2 linked regions of the Homo sapiens genome follow. The protein of the gene in region 2 interacts with the protein of the main gene of each other region in a pairwise test. Each region holds a gene or a part of one and is shown on either strand. Other genes may lie near its edges. The genes, in order: LETMD1 and BRI3BP.

The links.
Region 1: the proteins of BRI3BP (region 2) and LETMD1 interact in binary tests that used the Homo sapiens proteins (3 or more experiments, as listed by UniProt).

Annotation. Positions count from the first base shown.
Region 1 is NC_000012.12:51,040,411-51,056,298, reverse strand, and holds the start of LETMD1 (LETM1 domain-containing protein 1), read right to left. Parts: upstream 7,973-15,888; 5' UTR 7,943-7,972; coding exon 7,821-7,942; exon of another isoform or gene 7,287-7,820; coding exon of another isoform or gene 7,266-7,286; coding exon 7,114-7,265; intron 4,212-7,113; exon of another isoform or gene 4,208-4,211; coding exon 4,092-4,207; coding exon of another isoform or gene 4,053-4,091; intron 2,522-4,052; coding exon 2,439-2,521; intron 465-2,438; coding exon 278-464; intron 156-277; coding exon 54-155; intron 1-53. UniProt on the Homo sapiens protein: Plays an essential role for mitochondrial structure and function, as well as thermogenesis of brown adipocytes.
Region 2 is NC_000012.12:125,019,140-125,034,658, reverse strand, and holds the end of BRI3BP (BRI3-binding protein precursor), read right to left. Parts: intron 9,669-15,519; coding exon 9,229-9,668; 3' UTR 3,428-9,228; downstream 1-3,427. UniProt on the Homo sapiens protein: Involved in tumorigenesis and may function by stabilizing p53/TP53.

The sequences.
Region 1 (15,888 bases), about 74 Mb from region 2:
AACACCTGAAACATGGTGATGCTATGGAAAAGAGAAGCCCTCAAAGTGCTCACCACGTGCAAAGCCTGGAGTTGGTTCATGCCCAGAGGATGGTTAGAGAAACACTCTCTCAGAGCCAAGATATCATGTATTGCTGGGTGGGTACCACGCTGTATCTTGGAAGAGGTAAGAGATTTGTAGATGTTAGGAAAGTCCTGACTACTCCTCTTACCTAGTTTAGTGCACACTGAATCTAACAAGATTCCACATTTGTAGGAAGGGTTAACTGCAGGAATACCTTGGTGCACAGATCTGTCAGACGCCACCGGAGTCCTGCATCAGAAATGAGAGGGATGACCTTTTCTAAATAACTAATAATTTCTGGGTGGGACTGCTTCCGGAAAGCATGATAGATATCTAAGAAATCAGTTTGTTGTTTTGGGGTCCAGAAATGCCTGATCAGTAGTTGCCTGGGAAACAGGTACCTGAAAGGAGAAAGAATCACAAACTCACTTGCTGAAACTGGCTTCTTTCAGAGGAAGCCAAAGAAAGCATTTGGTAGACATGAATACTAGGAAGAAGAGATGGAGACACTATTTCCCTACCTCAGTGTTCTTTTTCTTTTTCAGTTTTTTTTTTTTTTTTTTTTTTTTTAAGAGACAGGGTCCCCTCTCTCACCCAGGCTGGAGTACAGTGGCAAGATCACAGCTCACTGCAGCCTCGACCTCCTAGGCTCAAGCAATCCTCCCACCACAGCCTACTGAGTAGCTGGGACTACAGGCACAGGCCACTATGCCTGGCTAAGTTTTTAATTTTTTTGCAGAGACGGGTCTTGCTATATTGCCCAGGGTGGTCTCAAACTCCTGGTCTCAAGCAATCTTCCTGCTTCAGTCTCCCCAAGTGCTGGGATTACTGGTGAGAGCCACTACAGTCAGCCCTTTCTCTTAAGTGACTCTCAGACCAAAGTTTATAAGACACACTGAAGCACAATTTCAAGCACCATTACTGAAATGGGATGTGAAAGGAAGGACTAGCAGAATAGCCTGCCACGCAGCAATCAGATATAATGACTCATTTTGAACTAAAGCATGTGAAGAGCATGCTTTGGAGAGAGTTGCAGCCTGACCAGGACACTATATGTGATGTTGACAATCTAACTATAGCACAGTCCTTATGTGGACCCAGTATGTAAAAGGCAACTGATTTGTTGTTTTTTTTTTGAGACAGAGTCTCGCTCTGTCACCCAAGCTGGACTGCAGTGGCGCGATCTCGGCTCACTGCAACCTCTGCCTCCTGGGTTCATGCGATTCTACTGCCTCAGCCTCCCAAGTAGCTGGGATTACAGGCACCCGCCACCACGCCTAGCTAGTATTTTGTATTTTTAGTAGAGACAGGGTTTCACTGTGTTAGCCAGGATGGTCTCAATCTCCTGACCTTGTGATCTGCCCGCCTCGGCCTCCCAAAGTGCTGGGATTACAGGCGTGAGCCACTGCACCTGGCCACGATTTGTTTTTTAATTTATTTATCTACGTGTTTGGTGGTTTTAAAACATGACCTCAAATTCTCTGGCACTTGTCTCATGGAGAGCTGAGGTCTACATCCTGCCCTTTTTTCATTCTAGGTGACTGATTCAATCAATAGGACAGAGCAGCAGTGACTCTATGTGACCTTCAAGACAAGGTTATAAAGTCATGTAGATTCTTACTAGAACCCCTCACTCTTGGAGCCCTGAGCTCCCAAGTTAGAAGTCCCACTATCTTGAGGCTGCCATACTGAAGAAGCCACATCTGGGCACTCTGGTTGACAGTTCTAGCCGTGTAGCCATCCCTGCCAGGGCACCAGACATAAGAGTGATATTGGACTTTCCAGACTAGTCCATTCAGCAGCTAAATATCACTAAGGGACCTCTGTCAACCCTATATGGAAGAGAGAAATCAACTGCCCACCTGAGCACTGCCCTAATTCTTGAGCTACAAAATCATGAAAATGATTTATACGATTGTTTTATGCTATTAAGCTTTGAAGTTATTTGTTATACAGCAATAGATAATGAATGACATGCAAGATCACAGTTAAGAAATGTCATTTTTGGATATGAAGTAATAAAAATGTTATCAGAATACGAAATGTACTTTTCCTAAAGAAATTAGTCTAAAAGTACTCTCTCTCGGGGAGAGAGCCTCTAGGGATGATGGAGAAGGTCACTATCTTATTTCACATGACTCAGGGCAGCTAAGAGATAGGGAGAGTCTAGGCCACCTACACTTATAGCTGTGATGTGTCACAGTAACCAAGGTCTTCCTAAGTGGTTTTTATGAACCTTGGAATAATGAGAAGATTGGAGCAGAAGTTTGATAACCTCTGCCTATCTTCTGAAATGAGTGCTGTTTAAAGTAATTCTTAATTTAAAAAAATTGATACATCTTCAAGATGTTGGGGAGATGGAAGTCTGTACTCACATTAGCAAGAAGACCAGGTAGTTGGCAAAAGGTGGAATGGAAATAATACCTAGGAAAAGACACTTGGTGACGTCTTGGCGGAACTAAGCAGAAATAAACACAGATGCAGTTTTAACCCAAATAAGTTGTTAATACAATAGACAATCCATCCACCCCACTGTACAGTAAACTTCTATTACAGCCCAGAAAAAGGACCAAATTTCTTTCTTTTTCTTTTTGAGATGGAGTCTTGCTCTGTCACCTAGGCTGGAGTGCAGTGGTGCAATCCTAGCTCACTGCAACCTCTGCCTCCTGGGTTCAAGTGATCCTCCTGCCTCAGCCACCCGAGTAGCTGGGATTATTGGCATAAGCCGCCACTCTAGGCTAACTTTTGTATTTTTAGTCGAGACAGGGTTTCACCATGTTGGACAAGCTGGTATCAATCTCCTGACCTCCAGTGATCTGCCCGCCTTGGCTTCCCAAAGTGCTAGGATTACAGGCATGAGCACTGCATGTGGTCCCCAAGTTTATTTCTATTTACTTCTGGATGGTTAGTTCCTTGAGGACAAAACCTCTGACTTATTTACTTTTGTATCCCAAATAATGTCTAGTACAGAGCCTGACATTATACCAAATCCTTCAGTGAACTCTTCCTGATCTGCGGAATGGGTCCTAGATTCTTACTCTCAGCTTCAAAACGACCCATCAAGTCACCACCAAATACTACTTTCATGCTGCCCTTTGGATCCTTGCAGACTTTTTTTTTTTTGAGACAGAGTTTTGCTCTTATCACCCAGGCTGGAGTGCAGTGGCGCGATCTTCACTCACTGCAACCTCCGCCTCCCAGGTTCAAGCAATTCTCCTGCCTCAGCCTCCCGAGTAGCTGGGACTAGGACTACAGGCGCCTGCCATCATGCCCAGCTAATTTTTGAATTTTTAGTAGAGATGGGGTTTCACCATGTTGGCCAGGCTGGTCTCAAGCTCCTGACCTCAGGTGATCCGCCCACCTCAGTCTCCCAAAATGCTGAGATTATAGGCGAGAGCCACTGTGCCTGGCTGCCCTTGCAGACTTCTATTTTCATTTTATTATTATTTTTTTTTGAGATGGAGTCTTGCCCTGTCACCCAGGCTGGAGTGCAATGGCATGATTTTGGCTCACTGCAACCTCTGCCTCCCGGGTTCAAACGATTCTCCTGCCTCAGCCTCCCGAGTAGCTGGGATTACAGGCGCCCGCCACCACACTCAGCTAATTTTTGTATTTTCAGTAGAGATGGGGTTTGACCTTGTGGGCCAGGCTGGTCTCGAATTCCTGACTTCGTGATCTGCCTGCCTCGGCTTCCCAAAGTGCTGGGATTACAGGCGTGAGCCACCGCGCCCAGCCCCCTTGCAGACTTTTGTTATGTTCAGAAACTAATTAGATTTTAGTATTTACAACTTTCATTCAGAAAGTGTGCCAGAAATTCTATGGAGCTCTTGCTATGGAGGGCTACAACTCTGGATGAACCCAATTCTTACAAATAATCTGATGCCTCATTCAGTTCAATATTTTGTTCTCACGGCAAAGGGCAAAAGCTTGATCAATGGTGAACAACAAATGAAAGAAAAAACCTTGAGATCTTGATTAAATGTAATTACCTCACCATGAACTTCTGGATATCTGCCCCTGGCCCATACCTGTCTCAAATGCTCCATCTCCCGGTATGGAAGTTGATGAAACTTTATATTGTGCTTCCACATATTTGTCTTTATTCTTCTAGCCTTTTTGGCATCAGCCCATAACATCTGCAATCCTGCCTCATTAAAGTAGAGGACAGAGTGTGATGTTATCCCAGTTTAAATCTTAACCACAGCTTCCTACTCCATGTTCAATCACATGCAAACACTCTCACCCCTCCCCAACGATACTCAAAGCTTTAAACTAGGTAACTTGAAACTCCTGAGGTCAACTCGAATCTCTTTTCTCAACATTTTTTCCCCTAGCACATCGCCTCTCTTCTAGCTACATTTGGCTTCTGTAATCTGCTATGGAATGGTCTCCCTCTTCTGTTTCACTGGTCACTCCTTTTTAAAAATCAAGCTCCCTAACTTCAGAAAGTCTTGCTAAATTAACCCTATGTATTCCCCAGCCAGATATTAATTTAATCTCCTTTCTGGAACTTTTTTTTTCTTTTTTTTGAGATGGAATCTCACTTTGTTGCCCAGGCTGGAGTGCAGTGGTGCGATTTCGGCTGACTGCAACCTCCACCTCCCAGGTTTATATAATTCTCCCACCTCAGAATCCCAAGTAGCTAGGATTACAGGCGTGTGCCACCATGCCTGGCTAATTTTTGCATTTTTAGTAGAGATGGGGTTTCACCATGTGGACAGGCTCGTCTTTAACTCCTGACCTCAAGCAATCCACCTGCCTCGGCCTCCCAAAGTGCTGGGATTACAGGCATGAGTCACTGCGCCCGGCCTGGAACACTTATTTTTGTTTTTGAGATGGAGTTTTGCTCTGTCGCCCAGGCTGGAGTGCAGTGGCGCAATCTCGGCTCACTGCAACGTCCACCTCCTGAGTTCAAGCAATTCTCCTGCCTCAGCCTTCCGAGTAGCTGGGATTATAGGTGCCCATCACCACACCTGGCTAATTTTTGTATTTTTAATAGAGACTGGGTTTCACCATGTTGGCCAGGCTGGTCTCAAACTCCTGACCTCATGATCCGCCCGCCTTGGCCTCCCAAAGTGCTAGGATTACAGGCGTGAGCCACCGTGCCCAGCCTGGAACACTTTTTAAAGTAGTTTAGTTCAATATATTTTTATGATTACATTTTAAATTTTCATTTTATGAAAATTCTTGCATCTAATTTTTTTCTTTTCTTTTTTTTTTTGAGATGGGAGTTTCACTGTTGTTGCCCAGGCTGGAGTGCAATGGTGCGATCTTGGCTCACCACAACCTCCGTCTCCCAGGTTCAAGAGATTCTCCTGCCTCAGCCTCCCTAGTAGCTGGGATTACAGGCATGTGCCACTATACCTGGCTGATTTTGTATTTTTAGTAGAGACGGTGCTTCTCTATGTTGGTCAGGCTGGTCTCAAACGCCCGACCTCAGATGATCCGCCCGCCCCGGCCTCCCAAAGTGCTGGGGTTACAGGCATGAGCCACCGCGCCCGGCTTCTTGCATCTATTTCTTTAATGCTTTCATATTTATCAATGATTTACATGTCATTATATGATGTCTCGATTGTCTTCAAAATAATACATAAGGCAAGTATATAAATAGGATTGGCAGCCATGAGTTATGATAATGAAGTGAGGTTAATACATGGAAGTTTGTTACACTACTCTCTCTACATCTGTGTGTGTTTAAAAATTTCCATAATAGTTGGCCGGGCGCGGTGGCTCAAGCCTGTAATCCCAGCACTTTGGGAAGCCGAGGCAGGCGGATCACGAGGTCAGGAGTTAGAGACCAGCCTGGCCAATATGGTGAAACCCCACCTCTACTAAAAATAAAAAAATTAGCCTGGTGTGGTGGCAGGCGCCTGTATTCCCAGCTACTTGGGAGGCTAAGGCAGGAGAATTGCTTGAATCCGGGAAGCAGAGGTTGCAGTGAACCGAGATCATGCCATTGCACTCCAGCCTGGGCGACACGGTGAGACTCAAAAAAAAAAAAAATTCATAATAAAAAGTTTAAAAACAAACACAAATGCTTTCATCCCTTTCTCTCATTTGATCCTATTTATCTACATGAAAACAGAAAAAGCAGCCAATTTTATCTCTACAAATTAAGGATAAGTAATTTTTCAAGTCCATGAAGCTAGTAATAATTATGATAATGTTCAGATTTGACAATGTAGTTTATTATAGTGTTATGATAAAAGCATAGAGCATATTATAGATTTGGTGCAAAAGCAATTGTGGTTTTTGCCACTGAAAGCCAAAAGCCGCAATTACTTTTGCACCAACTTATAATACTGTTAGGTAACATTTAGATGAAAATAAGTTAACATTTACTTGGCACTTACTAGGGATCAGGACCTGTTCTAGGTACTTTACATGTATCAATTTTTAAAGTCTTCACAATCATGTGATAAATAGGTAGGTTCCATTACTCCCATTTTACACATAAGAAAACCAAGGAAAGAGGGGTTAATTAATTAGTCCAATCGCACAGTGACGAACTGGGATTTGAATCAGGCAATCTGGCTCCAGAGTAGACACTTGACACGATACATATCTTCTCCTAGTAACTAAGGATCTCTGATTTGAAACAAAACATTTAGAAACCAAGTATTATGTAGGGCTATTGCCACTACAACATACTACCTAATATAGATTCATAACAAGGGTTAGACCTCATTTTCCTATGGGTAAGTCAACTGATACATCACAGGGCAGGTCTATACAGCCACAGATCCCTGCCGTGTGCAAGGCAAAAAATTTCTACTATAGCCAGGTGTGTGGTTAAGAAAGTACGAGAACATACCTATATTCTCCCTCCCTCATGTTGCTGTCATAAGTTGTTTCTCATAACATCTTTCTAGAAACATTCTCAAGAAGTGCTAATTTATAGGAATTAGTTTAAGGCGCAGGCATTTATGAAATATAAGATATCTCGGCTCACATCCCCATAGCAGAACCTGCAAATGATCTTATTTATGCTAACTCTTTGACCCTGCCCAAGAGCTGATTCCGGAATTTCTATTGTAGTTTCGTTTTTACCTTTCATGAAGATTGTGTACAGGACATAGAAGCGGGGGAAATGACGACCCAAGAAACGATGGTATTTCCCATTAATCGCTTTTGTCTTGGTTACCACATAAGACATCAAGTTCTTCACATCTGCCTTTGGAGAAAGGTGAAGCTTTGAAGACCTACAAGGAAGATCAAAGAGACTATCTGGGAATCAGTCCTAGAAGCTCCCTCACGCCTTGAGTCCCTAATGTAAAGCAGGAGTCTCGGAGATTGTATCCCAAGGCTTGACACTTCTGAAATCCAAGGAAGGTCTTGGGGTCAAGAAGAGATAGGCAATCAGACTGTGAAACACAAATCAGGCAAAGGCCAGGCAGGAAAGTAACTCAGGGTATGCCTCTGGAGAGAGCGCAATGCCTGTGGGACAATTTGAACTGCAGGCTAAGTCAGAAAGAGGTGGAATCGAGATAGCAGCGGTAAAACCTGAGCCGAAAAAGTGAGGCTGAAAGATGAGCTCAGGACACGCGGGGAAACCAGACAATATGGGGCACTGAGAGTACAGAGGGTCAGGAAGCCGGGTCACTAGTGGGGATCGGAGTTTGAATCCTGAACAGAAGAATAAAAATTCCAGGGCCAAGGCGTGGAACTCTGAGAATTAAGAGACAGAATGCAAGCAAGGTTGAGACACTGAAAGAGCCTGGACGTCAAAAATGCTTTTCTCGCTACAGGTCCCTCACCGAGGGGCCCCCCAAGCCAGGCCAGAGCGACCAAGTTGCAGCCTCCGGGTGACAAAATGTCCAGGGGTGACTGCCGAGCCCCACACAGCCGACCGAGCCCAGCACACCCTGGAGAGCGCCATCTTCACAGCGAGAGAAGCGGGAGAGAAGAGGTTGTCTTTGGGTCAAAGTTAACCGTACGTCGCGTTCGTTCGAAGACGCATGCGTCTTTTCTGAGCGCTGATTGGTAGCCATAGCCTGCTTGGCTCCAGCACAAGCCAGGAGAGGGAAGGACTCAAAGACTAAGTGCGGAAGGAGGGCCAGGATTGGACACAGCAGTACTTCCAGGTTTAAAGGCGCCGGAAACAGGGTGTCCCAGAGGGAGCGAGTTCTTATGCCACTGGTGTGGGTTTGCGACGCGGAGGGCACCCTGTCCTTGAGGCGCCCAGTGACCCTCCGCGATTCCTTAGGGCCTCAGGGCTTCCCAGCGCCGCCCTTGCCCTCTGCCTGGACTCGGGGCGTCGGAGCCTCGACTGTTAGGTAGCAGATGTCAGTTTGCCAGTGCCTGGGGCTAGGAGGACCCGCGGCGCCCTCTAATGGTGCCGGCGTGGATAGGCCGGGAACTGTCCACTTTCCAGTCAGTCTGGCGGCGAAGGTTGGAGGCCTGGGAGCGGCCCCTGTGCGGACTGAGTACACTTTTTCCTCTCTTTGTCGTTTCCAGAACTAAGTTTGTGGGAAAATGGTTTTCGTTAAGCACCTACCGAAGACCAAGCTCTGTCTCAACTTAAATGTTACTATTCTGAGAGGATTTCTGTGACCACCCTATCTGAAGCAGTGCCGGCGAAAAGGACACACTTCACACTTATTCTCATGTTACTCTGTTTTGTTTTGTTTTGTTGTTTTGTTTTTGTGACAGTTTTGCTCTGTCGCCCCGGCTGGAGTGCAGTGGCGCGATCTTGGCTCACTGCAGCCTCCGCCTCCCGGGTTCAAGCGATTCTCCTGCCTCAGCCTCCCGAGTATCTGGGATTACAGGCGTCCGCCACCACGCCCGGCTAATTTTTGTATTTTTAGTAGAGACGGGATCTCACTATGTTGGTCAGGCTGGTCTTCAACTCCTGGCCTCAAGTGATCCGCCAGCCTTGGCCTCCCAAAGTGCTGGGATTACAGGCGTGAGCCACTGCACCCGGCCTTGTATTTTCTTTGTAGCATCTGTCACTTACAGTGTTTATGTATTTGTGTCCTTGTTTGACAGCTCCCTGAACTAGAATGAGGGTAAGCATCTTCTCTGCCTTGTTCATTGCTGCACCTCCAACACTAGGTGCCTTACTTAGCACATAGTAGGTGTTCAGTAAACATGTTTGAATAGATTCATACTTGAAACTAAGAAGGATTCCCAGAAGTGGTACTTAACTGCCTCCAAGAATTAACAGTCCTCTTGGATATATATGAATATTTATTCTTCATGGAAGGTGGTAGAGCATCCCATGTGGGTTCCCTGGATATAGGTTCAATCTTGGCATTGACGTTTGTTTTAGTGAATGTTACCTTGGATATGTCACTTTAGCTCTGAGTTTATTTCCCTTATAATAGTACCTACTTTATAAGAAATCTTTGAGGATCCAAAGAGAATACAGCTGTGAAAGCTCCCACATCTGTATAATGCTTTATGGGTCACAGAGCTTTATATTAGCACAGGTTATTAATGACTGTACCACTCGTGCAGTCAGAGGAAAAGTTTTAAAAGATGGCCCTGGATCTTCACAAGTGTTGGGTAGATGGGGTGGACGGGATAGAAAGTTGACTAAGACGGCTGGGCGCCGTGGCTCATGCCTGTAATCCCAGCACTTTGGGAGGCCGAAGCGGGCTGATTACCCGAGGTCAGGAGTTCGAGACCAGCCTGGACAACATGGTGAAACCTCATCTCTACTAAGAATACAAAAATTAGCCGGATGTGGTGGTGGGCGCCTGTAATCCCAGCTACTCGGGAGGCTGAGGCAGGAGAATCGCTTTAACCCAGGAGGCGGAGGTTGAGGTGAGCCAAGATCGCACCACTGCACTCCAGCCTGGGCAACAGAGTGAGACTGTCTCAAAAAAAAAAAAAAAAAAAAAAAAGTTGACTAAGACATGGTCTTCATATTCAGGTAGTTTTTTTTTTTGTTTTTTTTTTTTTTGGAGACAGAGTCTCACTCTGTCACCCAGGCTGGAGTGCAGTGGCGCAATTTCAGCTCACTGCAACCTTCATCTCCCGGATTCAAGTGATTCTCCTGCCTCAGCCTCCCAAGTAGCTGGGTTTACAGGCGCCCGCCACCATGCCCAGACAACTTTTGTATTCTTTTTTTTTTTTTTTGACACGGAGTCTCGCTCTGTTGCCCAGGCTGGAGTGCAGTGGCGCAATCTCGGCTCACTGCAACTTCCGCCTCCCGGATTCACACCATTCTCCTGCATCAGCCTCCCGAGTAGCTGGGACTGCAGGTGCCCACCACCACACCTGGCTAATTTTTTGTATTTTCAGTAGAAACGGGGTTTCACCATGTTAGCCAGGATGGTCTTGATCTCCTGACCTCGTGATCCTCCCACCTCGGCCTCCCAAAGTGCTGGGATTAGAGGTGTGAGCCATCACACCCAGTCCAATTTTTGTATTCTTAGTAGAGACGCGGTTTCACCATGTTGGCCAGGCTAGTCTCGAACTCCTGAACTCAGGTGATCTGCCCACCTCAGCTTCGCAAAGTGCTGGGATTACAGGCGTGAGCCAACGTGCCCAGCCATCTTCAGGTAGCTTCTGAGTCATGTCAACTACTCAAGAATGTTCAGCTCTAAAATTCTGGAACTCTCTTGGAAAGGAGACAAAATCAGAATTTTGTGGAGAAAATAGGAAGGAACTGTGTCTGAAAGGATGGAGTAGAGGGGAAGGCATTTCATGCAATGAAAGAATGTGGCAGGAACACAGGTCATTCCTCAGACTTTTCTTTCTTTCTCTTCCTTCCTTTCCTTCCTTTTCTTTCTTTCCTTCCTCTCTTTCTTTCTCTTTCTCTCTTTCTTTCTTTCATAGGGTCTCGCTGTGTCGCCCAGGCTAGAGTGCAGTGGCCCCATCATGGCTCACTGCAGCCTTGATCTCCTGGGCTCAAGTGGTCCTCTCACCTCAGCCTCCCAAGTAGCTGGGATTACAGGCGCATGCCGCCACGCCCAGCTAATTTTTGTGTTTTTAGTAGAGATAGAGATTTGCCACGTTAGCCAGGCTGATCTTGAACTCCTAGACTCAAGCAATTCCCCTGCCTTGATCTCCCAAAGTGCTGGGATTACAGACTTGAGCCACTGCACCCAGCCCTTTCCTGAGATATTTATTTAGTGTTTAGGCCTCTTCCCCCTTTCCCCCGCTACACACACACACACACACACACACACACACACACACGCGCGTGCACACGCACACACACACACACACACACATGCATCTTGTTGGTTCTATCTTCTAGCTGTTCTTCAATCAGCCAGCTTCCTTCTATCTTCTCTGCCACCACCCTAGGCTAAGCTGCAAGCCTCTGGTCCCCACTTCTACAGCAGCCTCTTTACTGGTTTCCCTGCCATATGTTTTGTCCTCCCTCCAACCAGTTCTCCATGTTGTATGTAACCAGAGAGAGCTTTTAAAATTGCAAATCTAAGCTTGTCATTTCTCTTTATAAAACCTTTCAGGTTTCCGACTGGGCGCGGTGGCTCACGCCTGTAATCCCAGCACTTTGGGAGGCCGAGGCGGGCGAATCACGAGGTCAGGAGATCAAGACCATCCTGGCCAACATGGTGAAACCCCATCTCTTCTAAAAATACAAAAATTAGCCGGGCATGGTGGTGCGTGCCTATAATCCCAGCTGCAGCTACTCAGGAGGCTGAGGCAGGAGAATCACTTTAACTTGGGAGGCGGAGGTTGCAGTGAGCTGAGATCACACCATTGCACTCCAGCCTGGGCAACAGAGTGAGACTGTGTCTCAAAAAACAAACAAACAAAAGGCTGTGGGCTGGGCACAGTGACTCACACCTGTAATCCCAGCACTTTGGGAAGCTGAGGCAGGCAAATCACCTGAGGTCAGGAGTTCAAGACTAGCCTGACCAATATGATGAAACCCCGTCTCTACTAAAAATATAAAACTTAGGCTTGGCGCAGTGGTCCATGCCTGTAATCCCAGCACTTTGGGAGGCCAAGGCAGGTGGATCACCTGAGGTCGGGAGTTCAAGACCAGCCTGACCAACATGGAGAAACCCCGTCTCTACTAAAAATACAAAATTAGCCAGACTTGGTGGCGTATACCAGTAATCCCAACTACTCAGGAGGCCAAGGGAGAAGAATCGCTTGAACCCGGGAGGCGGAGGTTGTGGTGAGCTGAGATTGCGCCACTGCACTCCAGCCTGGGCAACAAGAACGGAACTCCATCTCAAAAAGAAAAAAAAAAACAAAAATTAGCTGGGCATGGTGACATACACCTGTAATCCCAGCTATTCAGGAGGCTGAGAGAGGAAAATTGCTTGAACCCGGGAGGCAGAGGTTGCGGTGAGCCGAGATCACGCCATTGCCTCCAGCCTGAGCAACAAGAGCGAAACTCTGTCTCAAAAAAAAAAAAAAAAAGAAAAACCAAGCTGTGCCACAACCACCTTGGGCACGTGTCATCAGGACCTCCTAAGGCTGTGTCATGTCCTTGACCTTGGCAAAATAAACTTTCTAAATTGATTGAGACCTGTCTCAGATATTTTGGGTTCACATAGGTGTGAGTCACTAAGCCAGACCTAGCTCCACTTTATACATGAGGAAAATGAGGTTCAATAATCTGCTCAAGATTGAGTCAGAATTTGAACCCAGGCAGGCTGGGCATATGAGTTAGTGCTGCACTGTATATAAACAGCTCTGTTACAGGAAACTCTTAACCCCACAGACTGAGGTTCCTGTTACTCACTTTGTAGCTAGCTATACTTATTTTTCATAGTACTTAACATCATAATTAATTAGCTGTGTCATTATACATTTCATGGCTATCTTCCCCACAGGAGTCTAAGCTCACTGTATTCCAGTCCCTGGCACACAAGGGGGGCTTATTAAATATTTATTAAATGAATATGGCCAAGCGCAGTGGCTCATATTTGTAATCCCAGCACTTTGGGAGGCTGAGGAGGATGATCACTTGAGGTCAGGAGTTCGAGACCAGCCTGGGCAAGATAGTGAAACCACGTCTCTACCAAAAATACAAAAATTAGCTGGGCGTGGTGGCACACGCCTGTAATCCCAGCTACTCTGGAGGCTGAAGCAGGAGAATCACTTGAACCCGGGAGGTGGAGGTTGCAGTGAGCTGAGATCATGCCACTGTACTCCAGCCTGGGTGACAGAGTGAGACTTCATCTCAAAAATAAAATAAAAACTACAGAGGCTGAGCACAGTGGCTCATGCCTGTAATCCCAGCACTTTGGGAGGCCAAGGTGGGCGGATCACGAAGTCAGGAGTTTGAGACCAGCCTGACCAACATGGTGAAATCCCGTCTCTACTAAAAATACAAAAATTAGCCAGGCGTGGTGGTGTGCACCTGTAATCCCAGCTACTCAGGAGACTGAGGCAGGAGAATCACTTGAACCCGGGAGGGGGAGGTTGCAGTGAGCCGAGATCATGCCACTGCACTCCAGCCTGGGTGACAGAGGGAGACTCCATCTCAAGAAAACAAAACAAAAAACCAGAAAGGGTTAGGCACAGTGGATCATGCTGTAATACCAGCACTTTGAAAAGCCAAGGCAGGCGGATCGAGACCAGCCTGGCCAATATGGTGAAACCCTGTCTCTACTAAAAATACAAAAATTAGCTGGGTGAGGTGGCAAGCACCTGTAATCCTGGCTACTCGGGAGGCTGAGGCAGGAGAATCGCTTGAACCTGGGAGACGGAGGTTGCAGTGAGCTGAGATTGCACCACTGCACTCCAGCCTGGGTGACAAACCCAGAATCTATTTCAGTAAAACCCAAAAAACAAAAAACATGCCGGGCGCAGTGGCTCATACCTGTAATCTCAGCACTTTGGGAGGCTGAGGCGGGTGGATCACCTGAGGTCAGGAGTTTGGGACCAGCCTGACCAACAAGGAGAAACCCCCATCTCTACTAAAAATACAAAATTAGCCAGGCGTGGTGGTGCATGCCTGTAATTCCAGCTACTCGGGAGGCTGAGGCAGGAGAATCACTTGTACCCAGGAGGTGGAGGTTGCAGTAAGCCAAGATCACGCCATTGCACTCCAGCCTGGGCAACAAGAGCAAAACTCCATCTCAAAAACAAACAAACAAACAGAAATTATATTGTATAAGCCAAGAACATACAAACATAGCATGAACTAAAAAAAAAAAAAACTGTCCTCAACTTAGATACATGTAAGGATGTCTTGCTCTGCAAATTGGGCTAGTTAACGATAAAAGTGGCGTGAATGATGATGACATTGATGATTTGAATAAAATTATGATATAAAATTTGACTGAAAAAGCATTATTTCTAAATAAATGTTTTATATGTGGTTTAAAATATGTGTTGCTAAATAATATTAGACTTACATTTTCCACTAAGTAGATGTTTAAAGTAGACATCTGACTACTTCATAAAAGGTTGGCCAAAAACTATCTTTTAGTTCTTCTCCTTGGGAAACGTAAGGCATTGCCTTACATTAAAATGTGCAGCTGGGTGCAGTGGTTCACACCTGTAATCTCAGCACTTTGGGAGGCCAAGGGGGGAAGATCTTTGAGGTCAGGACTTTGAGACCAGCCTGACCAACGTGGTGAAACCCCGTCTCTACCAAAAATACAAATATTAGCCAGGCGTGGTGGTGCTTGCCCATAATCCCAGCTACCCTAGAGGCTGAGGTGGGAGGATCGCTTGAACCCGGGAGGTGGAGATTATAGTGAGCCAAGATCACACCACTTCACTCCAGCCTGGGCAACAGAGTGAGACTCTGTCTCAAAAAAAAAAAAAAAGTTGAAGGAGTAGTAAATTCATAATTTTTTTTTTTTTTTAGACAGAGTCTCGCTCTGTCACCCAGGCTGGAGTGCAATGGTGTGATCTCGGCTCACTGCAACCTCTGCCTCCTGGGTTCAAGCACTTCTCCCTGCCTCAGCCTCTTGAGTAGCTGGGATGACAGGTGTGAGCCACTGTGCCTGGCTGTAAATTTATAAATTCTGATGGTGGTGGCAGTAGTGGTGCTTCCAGGTGAAGAAACATCAGATTTGAAGTAGGTTGTGGAGAGTCAATTGGAGATTGCTTGGCAGACAAGTAGTAGGAATAAATGGCACAAGATTGGAGCCCCCAAACCCAAGTATCACTGGGAGTATCATTTCTAGGAAGAAAGAAGGAACAATATGTGCAAAGATATGGAAGAATGCAACCTTAGGGAAAGGTAAAGTTTCTTTTTGTAGCAGAGGTAATAACTGCAGTGATTTGCCACTTTTAGTTACTAATTCACTAAATTTGACAAGCTGATTCGGGACAGTTATTCTTCCCAAGGAACTGGGGGGGAAATACCAGAATGAAAGAGTTTTTGTTTGTATTTTAATCTGTTTATAGAGAGGTGGTCTTGCCATGTTGTCCAGGCTGGTCTTAAACTCCTGGCCTCAAGGGATTCTTCTACCTTGATCTCCCAGAGGACTAGGATTACAGGTGTGAACCACTGGGCCCAGTCTTAAAGAGGGATTTTTTTTTTTAAGTGAGTTTTAATTTTTTTGTAGAGACAAGGCCTCACTATGTTGCCCAGGTCAGTCTCAAACTCCTGGCCTCAAGCAACCCTCCTACCTCAGTCTCCCAAATTGCCAGGATTACAGGCATGAACCACACCGAACCCGGCCAAGGGTTTTATTTATTTATTTATTTATTGAGACAGCGTCTTGCTCTGTTGCTCAGGCTGGAGCGCAGTGTCTGAATATCAGCTCACTGCAACCTGCACCTCCTGAGTTCAAGTGATTCTGGTGCCTCAGCCTCCCAAGTAGCTGGGACTACAGGTCATGTACCACCATGCCCGACTGGCTAATTTTGTTTTAGTAGAGACAGGGTTTCTAGCCTGGCCTGTTGCCCAGGCTGGTGTTGAACTCAAGT
Region 2 (15,519 bases):
AAGATTGCGCCACTGCACTCCAGCCTGGGCGACAGAGTGAGACTCCATCCCCAGCCCAAAAAAAAAAAATACAAACTAATGTCTAGTGACAGAGAGCAGCTCAAAGGTTGCCTGGGGATGGAGAGCAGTGAGAGGGACCCCAAAGGGCCCTGAGGTGATGGACATGTTTGCTATTTTGATTGTGGCAAGTTTGATGTCCATGGTGTACGCATATATGAAACGTTATCCAAGTTACATTCAAACATGTGCAGCTTATTGTATGTCAATTTTACATTGATAAAGCTGTTTTTGTTTTTCTTTTTTTAAAAAAAGGGGCTGGGTGCAGTGGCTCACGTCTGTAATCCCAACACTTTGGGAGGCCGAGGCGGGCAGATCACCTGAGGTCGGTAGTTCGAGAACAGCCTGACCAACATGGAGAAACCCCGTCTCTACTAAAAATACAAAATTAGCTGGGTGTGGTGGCACATGCCTGAAATCCCAGCTACTTGGGAGGCTGAGGCGGTAGAATTGCTTGAACCCAGGAAGCGGAGGTTGCGGTGAGCTGAGATTGTGCCATTGCACTCCAGCCTGGGCAACAAGAGTGAAACTCCGCCTCAAACCAAAACAAAACAAAAACAGCCTGGGTGGTGGCTCACGCCTGTAATCCCAACACTTTGGGAGGCCGAGGCAGGCAGATCATTTGAGGTCAGGGGTTCAAGACCAGCCTGGCCAACATTGTGAAACCCCATCTCTACTAAAAAATACAAAAATTAGCTGGGTGTGGTGGTGTGCGCCTGTAATCTCAACTACTAGGGAGGCTGAGGTGGGAGGATTGCTTGAACCGTGGAGATGGAGGTTGCAGTGAGGCGAGATCTCACCACTGCACACTAGCCTGGGTGACAGAATGAGACTCTGTTTCAAAAAAAAAAACAAAAAAAAACCAGAAAAACAAAACAGTACAGGGGGCCTTGGTTAGAAATAGGAGTGTAAACCAAAAAGTGACTGGGGCAGGTCTCAATGGATTAGTGGCTTATTTTGTCAAGGTTGACGCCGGGCCCAAGGAAAAGAAACATAAGTCACAGTAGGATCTGTGGCCTGTGCTGTTTCCAAAATGGGTTCTGAGGACTTAAATATTTAAAGGGGAATGCGCAAGCAGGAGGGGAAGGATGGAAGAAAAATGTGGGGAATGGTAGGCAGTGAGGCAGGGCTGAGTCTCACTCGGCTTTGACGAGCACTCATGAATCTACATTTTATGTATATTTATGTATTCATTTTTATCTATTTTTCTGAGACAGAGTCTCACTCCGTCGCCCAGGTTGGAGTGCAGGGGCGCCATCTCGGCCCACTGCAACCTCTGCTTCCTGAGCTCAAGTGATCCTTCTGCCTCAGCCTCCCAAAGTGCTGAGATTACAGGCTTGAGACACTACACCCAGCCCAAATCTACATTTTACACAAGATAAAGTAGGCAGCTATCTGTTTGGGAAGCAAAGGAAGGAAGTTTGTGTTTGTTTTTTTTGTTTGTTTGTTTTGTGGCTCAGTTCCCAAGCTTAACTTTGCCCTTGGCATAATGAGTTTGAGATCCCGAGATTCTATTTTTCCTTCATAGGTGCAAAGGGGCTGGTAGCAATGCCGCCAGCTGCTCTGGGGCTGCAGCGGGATTGGCAGCGGGCAGAAGGGGCAGTGGGAGATGGTGAGGCTGTAGCTGGTCAGGCTGGGGCAGGGTTCCCGGCACCCTCTAGGTCCGAGGAACACTGCCCTCGGTGACTTCTCCTGTGAAGTCTCATTCCTCTTGTACTTGACATTCCTCTTAATCCCCATCCGATAACCCACTCCCTCCTCCTCCTCGGCCTATGGTGTTTAATTCGAATGTTGCTTTCAATGCATTCTTACAAAATGATTATATTTTGAGATAGGATCTCACTCTGTTCCCCAGGCTGGAATGCAGTGGTGCAATCATGGCTCACTGCAGCCTCAACCACCTGGGCTCAAGCGATCCTCCCACGTCAGCCTCCCGAGTAGCTGGGACTGCAGGCACAGGCAGGCGCCACTGCACCCAACTAATTTATTTACTTTTCGTAGAGGCAAGTTCTCACTATGTTGCCCAGGCTGGTCTTGAACTCCTGGACTCGAGCGATTCACCTGCCTTGGCCTCCCAGTGCTGGGATGACAGGCGTGAGCCACTGCACCCGGCCACAAAATAGTAATTTTTTTTGTTTGTTTTTCAGACGGAGTTTCACTCTGTCGCCCAGGCTGGAGTGCAGTGGCGCGATTTCAGCTCACTGCAACTTCCACCTCCTGGGTTCAAGCAATTCTCCTGCCTTAGCCTCCCGAGTAGCTGAGACTACAAGCACTTGCCACCACGCCCGGCTAATTGCATTCTTAGTAGAGACGGGGTTTCACCATGTTAGCCAGGATGGTCTAGATCTCTTGACCTCGTGATCCGCCCGCCTCGGCCTCCCAAAGTGCTGGGATTACAGGCATGAGCCACCTCACCCGGCCAAAATGATTATTTTAATAGCAGGTATTGACTTTATTCAAATGAGCTGCCCCTCCTCATTCTGGTTTCCTTCTCACCCCACGCTGTTACTGTCATTACTACCTACTGCACGTCCTCCAGTGCCTCACCGCCCCCGCTCACCTGCCTGCTTTCCCAGTGACAGGCCACCCAGGCTGCCCCCAGATAACTTCACAATAACTAGCCTCAAATTGTCCCCTTATCGACCTATGTGAGATTGTCTTTGCGTAAAAAGCAGGAGCAGTACTCTTGGGTTAAGAGTAATTATACTTGGTCAAGGTAAATTATACTCCTGTTACATTTGCTCCTAAATGTTTACTAAGAATAGGATTTTTAAGGCTGGGCATGATGGCTCACGCCTGTTATCCCAGCACTTTGGGAGGCCGAAACGGGCGGATCACTGAGGTCAGGAGTTGGAGACCAGCCTGGCCAACATGGTGAAACCCCATCTCTACTAAAAATACAAAAATTGGCCGGACATGCTCGCTTGAGCCCAGGAGATGGAGGCAGCAGTGAGCTGAGATCTCGCCACTGCACTCCAGCCTGGGTGAGAGTCCATCTCAAAAAAAAAAAAAAAAAAAAAAAAAAAATAGAAAGAAAAGGATTGTTAGGACCTGAGAAAGCAGCATGGGTATGCGGGGTGGGGTGGAGAGGCACGCATCACTGTGCTAGGACTGTCAGATTTGGCAACTAAAAATACAGGAAACTTGCTTACATTTGAATTTCAGATAAGCAACCAACACTTCTACACTATACTAAAACACTACTGGTTGTTTATCTGAAATTCAAATTTAACTGGGCATCCTGTATTTTATCTTGCAACCTTACCTCCAACTGAATACATAAATTCAAGGTTTTATGACTCTTCTCAGATCGAGGAATAGAACCATAGAATCCTGGTTACACATCAAAACTGGGGAAACTCCACAAATGTTTGGTTAGAAGTGATGAGATATATTTTAAAAGTCCATACAACAAAATTACAATAAACATTTATTAAGCTGTAATTTTCACAATATTTTAATTCTGTTCTGAGATCTACAAATATCTCTACATAACACCAAAGCCAGTGATTTAATAAATAAGAGGAATGTATATATCGCTTTGCAAAAAAATGCCTGATACATTTATCTCTATATAAGATATTTGTAGAATCAGTTTCCCAAGGCTCACGAAACTAAAGTGCACACACACACACACACCATGTACACACACACACTATTCAAATCAAATGGATTTATATTAAGTGCCAAATTAAATGCTATACAAAATTTATAACCAGATACACAAAATATGAAGTCAATCATGAATCCACTGTTGATAATGGATACCATACCTCACAAGTGTGATTTCCAGTTAAGAAGAGGGAGACAATTGCTTCATTGGGTTTTTAGTGTGTGCTAATCACCATCACCATCACAAGTTAATCAGTTTAATTACATGGTATTCAGAGATTAAACACACATGCAGATATTAAATGGACACTACAATAAAACCTTTAAATCTGCAAAAAGACATGAGAACACATGGTCAATAATACCACTCGCTGCCACAGCTTTTCAGTAGACAATGCAAATGGCAATCAGCGTTTTAAGCCACCACAAGAGAAAAACTGGTACTGGTGCACCTCCTACATATCAAGGAAAAGCAAAACACAGAATAATTTAATATGCTGAATAAAATTTGTTTACACCAGATACTATACATCACACTGATGGTTGTCCAGTATGAATTTTAAGGGTATTATGTTAGATTCTGCAAAATATATTCCTATTATTCACAAGTGAGGAGTCAAAGTCCAACTATTCAAATGGCCATAAACAAAAATGTTGCAGAAGGTATAGACCATTAAAAATAAAAAAGTCAGGAGTGGGGCAGCTGACCCCTTAGGAGCCTCAGGAATTCCTTTTAATGCAAGATAGATGGCAAGAGCTGGCTTTTTGGTTAAGTCAGCCAGTTCGGAAACCCATCAGGGAGAAGTTATCAGGTGTCAACTTGTAAGGCAGATGACATTCATCAAAAGCATCTTAAGAAGTAGCAGTGATCACAGAAAGGAAGCAATTCAGGATTTCCACTAGCAACAAATTGCATTAACCATGTCTAGGCCATTTGACAGCTGTTATTCTTAACGCTCCATAAGCCTGAATCACAGGGCCAGATGAGCGACTAAGCTGCTCACATCCTCTCTACAAGGCAGCCCTCCCGGGCATGCACAAAGTCATATTATAGTCTTCCTAATCACTGACCCAAACCTTTGCGTTCTTACTCAGCTCCCCAGAGGGGACCACCCCACTTGGTTACCACCATCACAGTCATAAAGACATAGTCCCAGTTCCCTGACATCGCTGCCTCCCGACTCCTGCATGAGACAGGCTCTCATTTCTGGGGTAAGTGTATGAAACACCTTTCAACGGCATTCACTTACCCTTTGTGAATTAAGACACAGGCACGATTCACAAGGTCTGCTTCCCAGAAATTCTATTGCTGTGCTCTGTTACCAGAAATGATATGGGGGCTGAAATCCAAAGCAAAAGAAACCAAAGGGCGGGTAATGCCGACTGGTATTGGAAAGTGTGTGTGTGTGTATATATATATACATATATATACACACACACACACTTTTTTTTTTTTTTGAGACTGGGTCTCACTCTGTCGCCTCAACTGGAGTACAGTGGTGTGATCTCAGTTCACTGCAACCTCTGCCTCCCAGGTTCATACAATTCTCCCACCTCAGCCTCCTGAGTAGCTGGGACTACAGGAACCCACCACCACACCTGGCTATTTTTTTTTTTTTTTTTTTTTTTGTATTTTTTGGTAGAGACGGGATTTCACTATGTTGGCCAGGCTGGTCTCGAACTCCCGACCGCAAGTGATCCACCCGCCTTGGCCTCCCAAAGTGCTGGGATTACAAGCTTGAGCCACTGCACCCAGCCTGGAAAGTATATTTATGAAAGGTTTGCACTCCACAAAAGCATCTTTGCTAGGGTGTCAAGGAAGAGATCACTAAACCAACCCCAACACATCCATACAATTCCAGCAATCTAGAGAGGGCTGGTCCTTTTCCTTTTCTGGATTATTTTCTGTTCTCAGTAAAACAAGTATTTACTGTGATACTGAAACACTGGGAAATTAACACTGATTAAGATATTTTAAACACTGAGTCTTAATTATAACAGAACCAGTTTTCATCAGAATGCTTTTACGTCACATTCAGTGAAGTGTTACGCTAATATATTCTACAGCCCTGAAGATAGAAAAAAGGTTTCTCTCCAGGTATGAGATATGGTACAAAAATACATTTTTCCACATACAAAAGAGAGAAAAAAACAAAGACATGTGGCGGGTGGCGAGGGGAGGCCCAATCCCAACACCCTACAAGGTTCCATGGAATGGAGAAGGAACAAAAAAATCCCCAATTATTTTGGGGTAAGATGTGCCCCAGAAAAGGTGAAATCTATGCAATAAAACCCAGGTTTTCTTCAAATCTAGCATCTAGGATTTCTATCAGAGTTTCAAATAATCAGAATTTCTATCAGAATTTCTACCCTGAGGTGACACCTACTAACTGTAGGTTCTTTCATTAAAAATGAAGACATCTTTCACCAGAATGTATCAAGCTATAAAACTGGCTTCAGAGCCTACACTTAGCCAGAGTGGAAAAAAAAAATAGTGCATATTTTCGACAGCAATTTTGAATTGATGCTTGAGGTCTCAATCCACCAGCACCCAGATATCATGTTACCTCCCTCAGTTGAATACAAGTTAAAATGATGATCTTATCGAGATCTCAATAGAGCACAGTGCCCTTCATGTTTCGGGTAAGAGGGTGGGAGGAGGAATGAAGCGGGTATTACACCCAGCCCAGTGACAGCTTAAGCCTTAACATGCGGGCATCTTACAATGACCATAAACAAGGGAGGGGCCAAGGCAGGGCTGGCGATCATTAGCTTTGCGCACAGAATGCCATGTTTTCCCCTGGCCAACATAAGCAAAGCTGTTTTAGTACCTAAACGTGGTATAGCCAAATGCACAAAAGGAAAGAAGATAGAGATGACCTCCCGAGTTATTTATACCTTGTGCTAAAATAGATTCATCTACAAGTATCTAAATGACAAAACTAGAATGATTTCAACCCAGTAATCCTGTGTTCCAATGTGCATGGATAAAGATTTGATCTAGGCCCAGCGCGGTGGCTCACGCCTGTAATCCCAGCACTTTGGGAGGCCGAGGCGGGCGGATCACGAGGTCAGGAGATCGAGACCATCCTGGCTAACACGGTGAAACCCCGTCTCTACTAAAAATATAAAAAATTAGCCGGGCATGATGGTGGGCGCCTGTAGTCCCGGCTACTTGGGAGGCTGAGGTAGGAGAATGGCGTGAACCCAGGAGGCGGAGCTTGCAGTGAGCCGAGATGGTGCCACTGCACTCCAGCCTGGTTGACAGTGAGACTCCATCTCAAAAAAAAAAAGATTCGATCCAGCAAATAATTTTTTTTGAGACGGAGTCTCACTCTGTTGCTGAGGCTAGAGTGTGGTGGTATGATCTCAGCTGACTGCAACCTCCGCCTCCCATGTTCAAGCGATTCTCCAGCCTCAGCCTCCCAAGTAGCTGGGATCACAGGCGCCCACCACCAGGCCTGGCTAATTTTTGTATTTTTAGTAGAGACGGGGTTTCACTCTGTTGGCCGGGCTGGTCTCAAACTCCTGACCTCAGGTGATCCACCTGCCTTGGCCTCCCAAAGTGTTGGGATTATAGGGGTGAGCCACCCTGCCCAGCCTGCTCCAGCAAATCTTAAATATCCATGCACACTGAATAAACATGCACCTGAAACAGGTGCACGTTTCAGGAAGTGAATGGAACTCTCCAGGAGAGTTTGGGTCCCATCATGTGTACCTTAGAAACAGAAGTCTCAAAAGTCTCAACAACATCCACAAAAACATCTGCATCTGTTTTCCAGATACTTGCAACCAAAAATAAAACTTCACAGGAACACTACACAAGAAGTGGTAGACAGCTAAATCTTCTCCAAACTGAGACCTGGACCATAAGGTCTTGGTTGTAGCAGGTCTGGCAGGGGTTATCTATAAACCTGCACGCAGGGCACTGTGAGCGGGTTGCCAGGGTACATCTGTGGCCAGGTAAGGGCCACAGAGACAGTCGTGATCCCCAGCAGCTTCAAAGCTGCAAAATGCTGGGCTTTTTTTTTTTTTTTTAAGATGAAGTCTTGCTCTGTTGCCTAGGCTGGAGTGCAGTGGCGTGATCTCGGCTCACCGCAACCTCCACCTCCCAGGTTCAAGCAATTCTCCTGCCTCAGCCTCCTGAGTAGCTGGACTACAGGCACCCACCACCATGCCTGACTAATTTTTGTATTTTTAGTAGAGACGGGGGTTTCACCATGTTGGCCAGGCTGGTCTTGAACTCCTGACCTCAGGTGATCCATACTCCTCGGCCTCCCAAAGCGCTGGGATTACAGGCATCAGCCACTGCGCCTGGCCTAGGGCTTTCTTTTTTAAAAAACAAGTCCTAACAAAAGGGGGTTTCTACCAGCCCCTGAGCCACACCTTCTGAAACTCCCTTGCCCAGGATCCCCACAGCTGTCCACCTCGCAAGTCCCACTCTCTGCCCACAGAGACTGCCTAAAAGGAGGACACAACAGATTTCAGATAAAAAGCACCTGTGTATCGTAAATATTTCAGGAAAAAGAATTCAGATCTTTTCAAAGGCTTGCTTATTGCTGCTAATTGTTCCTGAGGATCTTTCTAAGCAGCAATATACTTGAGAATATTAGCTGCTACTGTTTGTTTTCCCTCTAAGGTCCTGAGGAAATCAAAAGAAAAAAAAAAAAACCCTCAAGGGTATAGCTTTTGTATATAGCCCTAGTGAGCAAACTGCAAATTGGGACATGCAGTAGATTCTGGAGCAATCTCCAATCCTTACCAGGTACTTCCTGGCATCAAATCCCCAGGACATTTCTTGGCCCCTCCTTGCATTTTCCGTTTCAAAATGTTGAGGTTAAAATACATCGAAGCACAGAGGGAAGAAAATCTCAGGTCTTCTAGAAATGGCGATGTCTTCATTTAAAAATAGGACTGATGGGGGCTTGGCAGGGGTCTCTAGGATCCAAAAGAGGTTGAGTTGCATCCTGCAGCCCAACTGTCCACATTTAGAAGTGACAACATTCATGAACTAAGTCAACATCCACCAAAAATAACATGAAATAAAGCTCACAGTTTGGGAACATGAAAATAACGCACACAGACCTCACCCACCAATCCCTAAGCTGTGAAAACAAACGCTCGCATTTAAACTTTTCTCAAATGTCAAATTAGCATATTCTTCCCCTCCATGTAAAGTTTTAATAAACTTGACTCAATCTGCCTTTATTAAAAAACCTTACAAAAGATGTATTTAAATGCTTGAAAAAATTAACTTTATGCTCTATGCACAGATAAATTTCTCTTACTGTACAACTAAATATGGTTATATCCTTTGTTTAAAAAATATTTTTTCCCCCACTAATTACACTTCGTGTGTAGTTCCACGTCAATGATCTTTCCGCTCTTCTGGGAATGTGTCCTAAGAGCTGCCGGGTGGGTGGAAATAGCCCTACACAGCGCCACTTTCTTGCTCAGTCGTGTTTATTAAGATTGTTTGGGGTTTGGGGTTTTTTTCCTCCGTTTTCGTTTTCTGAGACAGCGTGCTGGTAACTGTGGACCCGCCCGGCCGGCTGACCTTCACTTGTCCTTGGAGCGGTCCAGGCTCTCGAGCACCCGGTTGAGACGGATGTTGAGCAGTCTGACCTGCTTCTCCAGGTGCTCCAGCTTCTCCTCCACGCTGGGGTTGCTGGGGTTGCTGGGGCCGCTGGGACTGCTTCGCCAGTAGAAGCCCATGGGCCCGGTCATGAAGTAGACGGCCACCACGAAGCACAGCGGCAGCACCGCGTTCTCCGGCTCGCCCTCGTACTTGTGCAGGATGTACACGCAGGACATGGAAAACAGGACGACCCGCACGATCCAGAAGAAGCGGCCGAACACCACGTGCAGGACGCTGAAAGTGAAGCCCAGGGTCAGGGACAAGAACCAGTAGGCCAGGAGGACGACGCCGACCAGCAGGAGCGCGCGGGCCGGGCTGCTGGACACCGAGGCTGGGCTGAAATACTGGGACAGGTTGGAGACTGCGGGACAGAAAAGAGGAACAGGGCTCGTTACGCAGGGGCCAGGGGTTTCTTAACAAGCTAGAATTGGATAGTTGAGCTGGCCTGTGGGGCTTAAAAGGCCTTTGCAACAACCAAAGGAACTCAAGGAAGTTCCTCTGTGAATAGTCACACTTTGCTCCATGAGGACACACAGGGAAGCCTCTTTTTTTTGAGATGGAGTCTTGCTCTGTTGCCCAGGCTGGAGTGCAATGGTGTGATCTCGGCTCACCACAACCTCCGCCTCCTGGGTTCAAGCAATTCTCCTGTCTCAGCCTCCGGGGTAGCTGGGATTACAGGCATGCGCCACCACACCCGGCTAATTTTGTATCTTTAGTAGAGACGGGGTTTCTCCATGTTAATCAGGCTGGTCTCGAACTCCTGACCTCAGGTGATCCACCTGCCTCGGCCTCCCAAAGTGCTGGGATTACAGGCATGAGCCACCATGCCCAGCCAGGGAAGCCCTTTAAGACGACCTGCCATGTTGAGTTTTAAAAACCTCTCCATATACTGGTTTCTCTTCAAATCATATACATCTTTCACCTTTAGCCTGGGCAACATAGTGAGACCCTGATATGGACTGGCTCTGTGCTCCCACACAAATCTCATCTTGAATTATAATCCTCACGTGTGGAGGAAGGAACCTCGTGGGGGGTGATTGGATCATGGGGGTGGTTTCCCCATGCTGTTCTTGTGACAGTGGAGGGGGGGGGGTTTCATGAGATCTGATGGTTTAAGTGTTTGGCAGCTGCCCCCTTTGCTCTCTCTTTCTCTCCTGCTGCCTTGTGAAGAAGGTGCTTGCTTCTCCTTTGCCTTCTGCCATGATTATAAGTTTCCTGAGCCACGCAGAACTGTGAGTCAATTAAACCTCTTTTATTTATGCATTACCTAGTCTCAGGTTTTTTGGTTTTTTTGTTTGTGTTTTTGAGGTTGGAGTGCAGTGGCACAATCTTGGCTCGTTGCAACCTCTGCATCCCAGGTTCAAGCAATTCTCCTGCCTCAGTCTCCCAAGTAGCTGGGATTATAGGCACATGCCACCACACCCAGCTGATTTTTGTATTTTTAGTAGAGATGAGGTTTCACCATGTTGGCCAGGCTGGTCTTGAACTAGTGTCCTCAAGTGATCCACCTCCTCAGCCTCCCAAAGTGCTGGGATTACAAGTGTGAGCCACTGCGCCTGGCCTCGGGTATGTTTTGATAGCAGTGTGAAAATAGACTAATACAGACCCAATCTCTAGAGAACACAAATTTTAAAAAAATTAGACAGGTGTGGTAGCACACACCTGTAGTCCCAGCTACTCAGGAGGCTGAGGTGGGAGGATCACTTGAGGCTGGGAGGTAGAGGCTGCAGTGAGCCATAATGTGCCACTGCACTCCAGCCTGTGTGACAGAGTAAGACTTTGTCTCAAAAGACAACTTTCACCTTTTACTAAAACACCTCTGGAAGTGGGGCATAGCCTGCAAATTGTCCTTCAATTTCCATAGTAACAAATGCCCACCTTCAGGCTGGGCACACAACTACCTAGGATTAAAGCATTTCCTAGCCTCTCTTGCAGCTACATAACTAAGCTTTGGCCATGTGTTCCCTAAAAGTAGCAGGAATGTGTCCTTTACCTCTTCTGCCTGCTGGAACATGGATACAATGGCTGGAACTGGAGCAGCCATTTTGGAAGGCACTCATGGAGGAACAATAAAATGGAAGGTGCTTTGGTCCAGAGCACCACATGCATCAGAGCCATCAAACCCGCCTCACCACCTCCCTGAGAACTTTCATATAAGAGGGAAATAGGTGTCCATCTTGGTTAAGCCAATGTTATGTTGGATTTCTGTTTCAGCCAAACCTGATCCTAACTGGTACCCACACACGAAGTTCCATCTCAAGAATGCAGTGAAATGTAAGAGTAGCATCTTCTGTGTGCCTGACTTGAAGAAATTCAAACAAAAAAGTTAAAAGAACAGTAGAATATTCCTTTTGAAACCAACTAGACTGAACAATTATTAAAAATTCTGAATGTTGCATTCTCTATTTACATACTTTTTAGATTAACCCATTTGAAAGATGTACACATCATACTTCATCATACATCTAAGAATAAAGACATCATTCACCTCAAAACCATGATACTATCATCATTCTAAGAATATTAACAATTCCAGGCTGGGCACGGTGGCTCATGCCAGCATTTGGGAGGCCAAGGTGGGTGGATCACCTGAGATCAGGAGTTTGAGACCAGCCTGGCCAACATGGTGAAACCCCATCTCTACTAAAAATATAAAAATTAGCTGGGCGTGGTGGCGCACACCTGTAATCCAAGCTACCTGGGAGGCTGAGGCACGAGAATCGCTTGAACCCAGGGAGGCAGAGGTTGCAGTGAGCCAATGGCGCCACTGCACTCCAACCTGAGACACAGTGAGGCTCTGTCTCAAAAAATAAATAAATAAATAAATAAATAATAAATTAACAATTCCATATAACATCACTTGAATTTCTCAGTTATCCAGGAATAGCTGTTTCCTCCCAACCCTCACCAGGACCCAGCGACAGTTCACGTTCAGCATTTGCCATCACTTTAGTCTCCATTAATTGAGAAGAGACCCATGACATTTTAGAAACACTGAAATTCTGAAGTCTAATTTTTCCAGGATGGTTTTCTTGCAGGAGGTCCCACATGCTGCAATTGTTTGTTTCCTGACAGTGTTGTTTAATGAGTTCAAGGAGAGTTATATCCTAAGCCTTCTCACACAAGCAGTTCTCAAACTTGTGTGATTCCTCCAGGAATCCCCTGGAGGGCTTAGGAAAACAGGTTGCTGGGCCCCACCCCCAGGACATCTGATTCAGTAGGTCCTGGGTGGGCCCAAGAATCTGTGGTCTTTTTTTTTTTTTTTTTTTTTTAAGACAGGGTCTTTTTCTGTCACCCAGGCTGGAGTGTGATGGTGTGATCTCGGCTCACTGCAGCCTTGACCTTTTGGGCTCAAGCGATCCTCCCACCTCAGACTCCCGAGTAGCTAGGACTATAGGCATGCACCACCACAGCTGGCTAATTTTTGTATTTTTTTGTAGAGACAGTGAAGTGGTTTGGTTCTGTGTTCTCACCCAAATCTAATTTCAAATTGTAATCCCCACGTGTCCAGGGAGGGACCTGGTAGGAGGTGATTGGATCGTGGAGGTGGTTTCCTCCATGCTATTCTCATGAAAGTGAGTGAGTCTCACGAGATCTGATGGTTTAAAAGTGTTTGGCAGTTTACCCCTCGCTCTTGCTTCCTCTCTCCTGCCACCACGTAAGACGTGCCTTGCTTCCCCTTTGCCTTCCGCCATGATTACAAGTTTCCTGAGGCCTCCCCAGCCATGTGGAACTGTGAGTCAATTAAATCTCTTTTATTTATAAATTACACAGCCTCAGGTAGTTCCTTATAGCAGTGTGGAAACCAGCAAATACAGATAGGATCTCGCTATGTTGCCCAGGCTGGTCTCGAACTCCTGAGCTCAAGCAACCTGCCTGCCTTGGCTTCCCTAAGTGCTGGGATTATAGGTGTGAGGCACCACGCCCAGCCAAAGAGGACCAAAGTGTGACACAACGATCTGGAGTGGGCAAGCGCAAATCCAGAGCAGGCCTGAGATGGGAAGCCTCAACCCTGGAGCTCCTCCGGTCAATAACGACACCTACGGCGTGAACATCTCATAGTTCCCCAAAATGATCAGACTCCGCACAGCTGGCCAGTGTCTAGAGTCCAACACTGTAAACAGCAGCCATCTCTGGGACTAAAGGCTTGGGGTCACCAGGACTCCCCAGAAGCCAGAGTGTGTTTGCTACACTGTGCCTTCCTGAGGCATCGTGAGCATTTTGACTAAATGTGGTTGACTTGGGAGCTGACTTTCACACCTGTCCCCTGCAGACTGGAGGCTAAACCAGTGTTTCCCAGACCTCTCAGTCTCAAGACCGTTTGCACTCTTCAGTATTATTGAAGCGTCCCCAGAGCTTTCGTTTATGTGGGTTCTACCTAACTGATATATTTTCCATAGCAGAAAATTAGGTAGTTTTTAATTAGTTGTTAATTATCTTTTAAATTTTATTATTTATTTATTTATTTATTTGAGACAGAGTCTTGCTCTGTAGCCCAGGCTAGACTTCAGTAGCATGATCTTAGCTCATTGCAACCTCTACCTCCTGGGCTCAAGCGATCCTCTCACCTCAGCCTCCCAAGTAGCTGAGACTACAAGCATGCACCACCAAGCTAATGTTTTGATTTTTTGTAGATACAGGGTCTCACTGTGTTGCCAAGGATGGTCTCAAACTCCTGGGCTTAAGCAATCCATCTGCCTCAACCTCCCAAAGTGCTGGGATTACCAGATGAGCCACTGTGTCCAGCCATTGTTAATAATTTAAAAACATTGCTATCATTAACTCATTTTCAAATAACAACCCATTACAGATGCTAGGCTTTGAGTATTTGTGTCCCCCACAAAATTCCTATGTTGAAATCCTAACCCCAAAAGTGATGGTCTTAGGAGGTGGGGTCCTGGGGAGGTGATCAGGTCGTAGGGGTGGAGCCCCCATGAATGGGTTTAGTGCCCTTATAAAGAGGTCCCAGAGAACCGCCTTGTTCCTTCATGTGAGACACAGTGAGGCATCGTCTACAAGAAAGGGCTCTCCCCACAGCCTGCATCTGCCAGTGCCTTCATTTTGGACTTCCTGCCTCCAAACTGTAAGAAATGAAAATGTCTGTTAGGCCGGGCACGGTGGCTCATGCCTGTAATCCCAGCTCTTTGGGAGGCCAAGGTGGGCAGATCATCTGAAGTCAGGAGTTCGAGACCAGCCTGACCAATATGGCGAAACCTTGTCTCTATTAAAAAAAATACAAAATTAGCCGGGCATAGTGGTGCATGCCTGTAATCCCAGCTACTCAGGAGGCTGAGGCAGGAGAATCACTGGAACCCGGGAGGCTGAGGTTGCGCCACTGCACTCCAGCCTGGGCAACAGAGAGAGACTCCATCTCAAAAAAAAAAAAAAAAAAAAAAAAGTCTGTTGTTGATAAGCCACACAGTCTATGGAATTTTGTTATAGCAGCCTGAACTGACCAAGACAATAGGTTAACACAAAATATTTTTCACAAAAAGCAACTGTTTCTAAAGCAGAACAAACCACTCTGAGAACAGTGGCAGTGCTTTGAATGTTTGCCAGTCTCTTTCCTATCTAGCTATTTAGAGGAGACCTGGCCCCCAAATCTGGTTTTGAATTCAGAGGAACAGAACACCAGCCACAAATGTGAGCCATGTTTGTCACTGAAAATTTTCAAGTACTCACAGCAAAAAAGGCAAAAAAAAAAAAAAAAAAAAAAGGGTGGAATTAATGTTAATAAGATATTTTGTTTAATCCAATCTATCTAAAATGTCATCATCTTAACGTGGCATCAATATATATGGAAGTATTAAAGTACGTACTGAATCCCTGACCTCAGAGACATGTTACGGGAGAAGAGAGGAACTCACAGTCACCCCTCCTAACCAAAAGGGTCTCAGGGACCTCCTGGGGTTCCTCTGAGCATACTTTGAGAAGCATCGTGTCATCAAGGGGCCAAGATAGTGATCAGCCAGGAAAGATGCCCAGAGACGAGAATGCCACCCCTGCCTTCCACCTCTCGGTGACTTCAGTGAAAGCTGTCCTTTAAACCAAGGAAGGGTGGTCCAAAGCAACGTCACTCCGAGGCCCTGAAAATCCTAAAGAAAACACGAGTGGCCCTGCACGTTCTGACAGCAAAGGGGCACCGTCTGACTTCCCTAGCGCTGCCATGGCCAAGTAGCTAAAAAGGAGTAGAAGGCCGGGCGCAGTGGCTC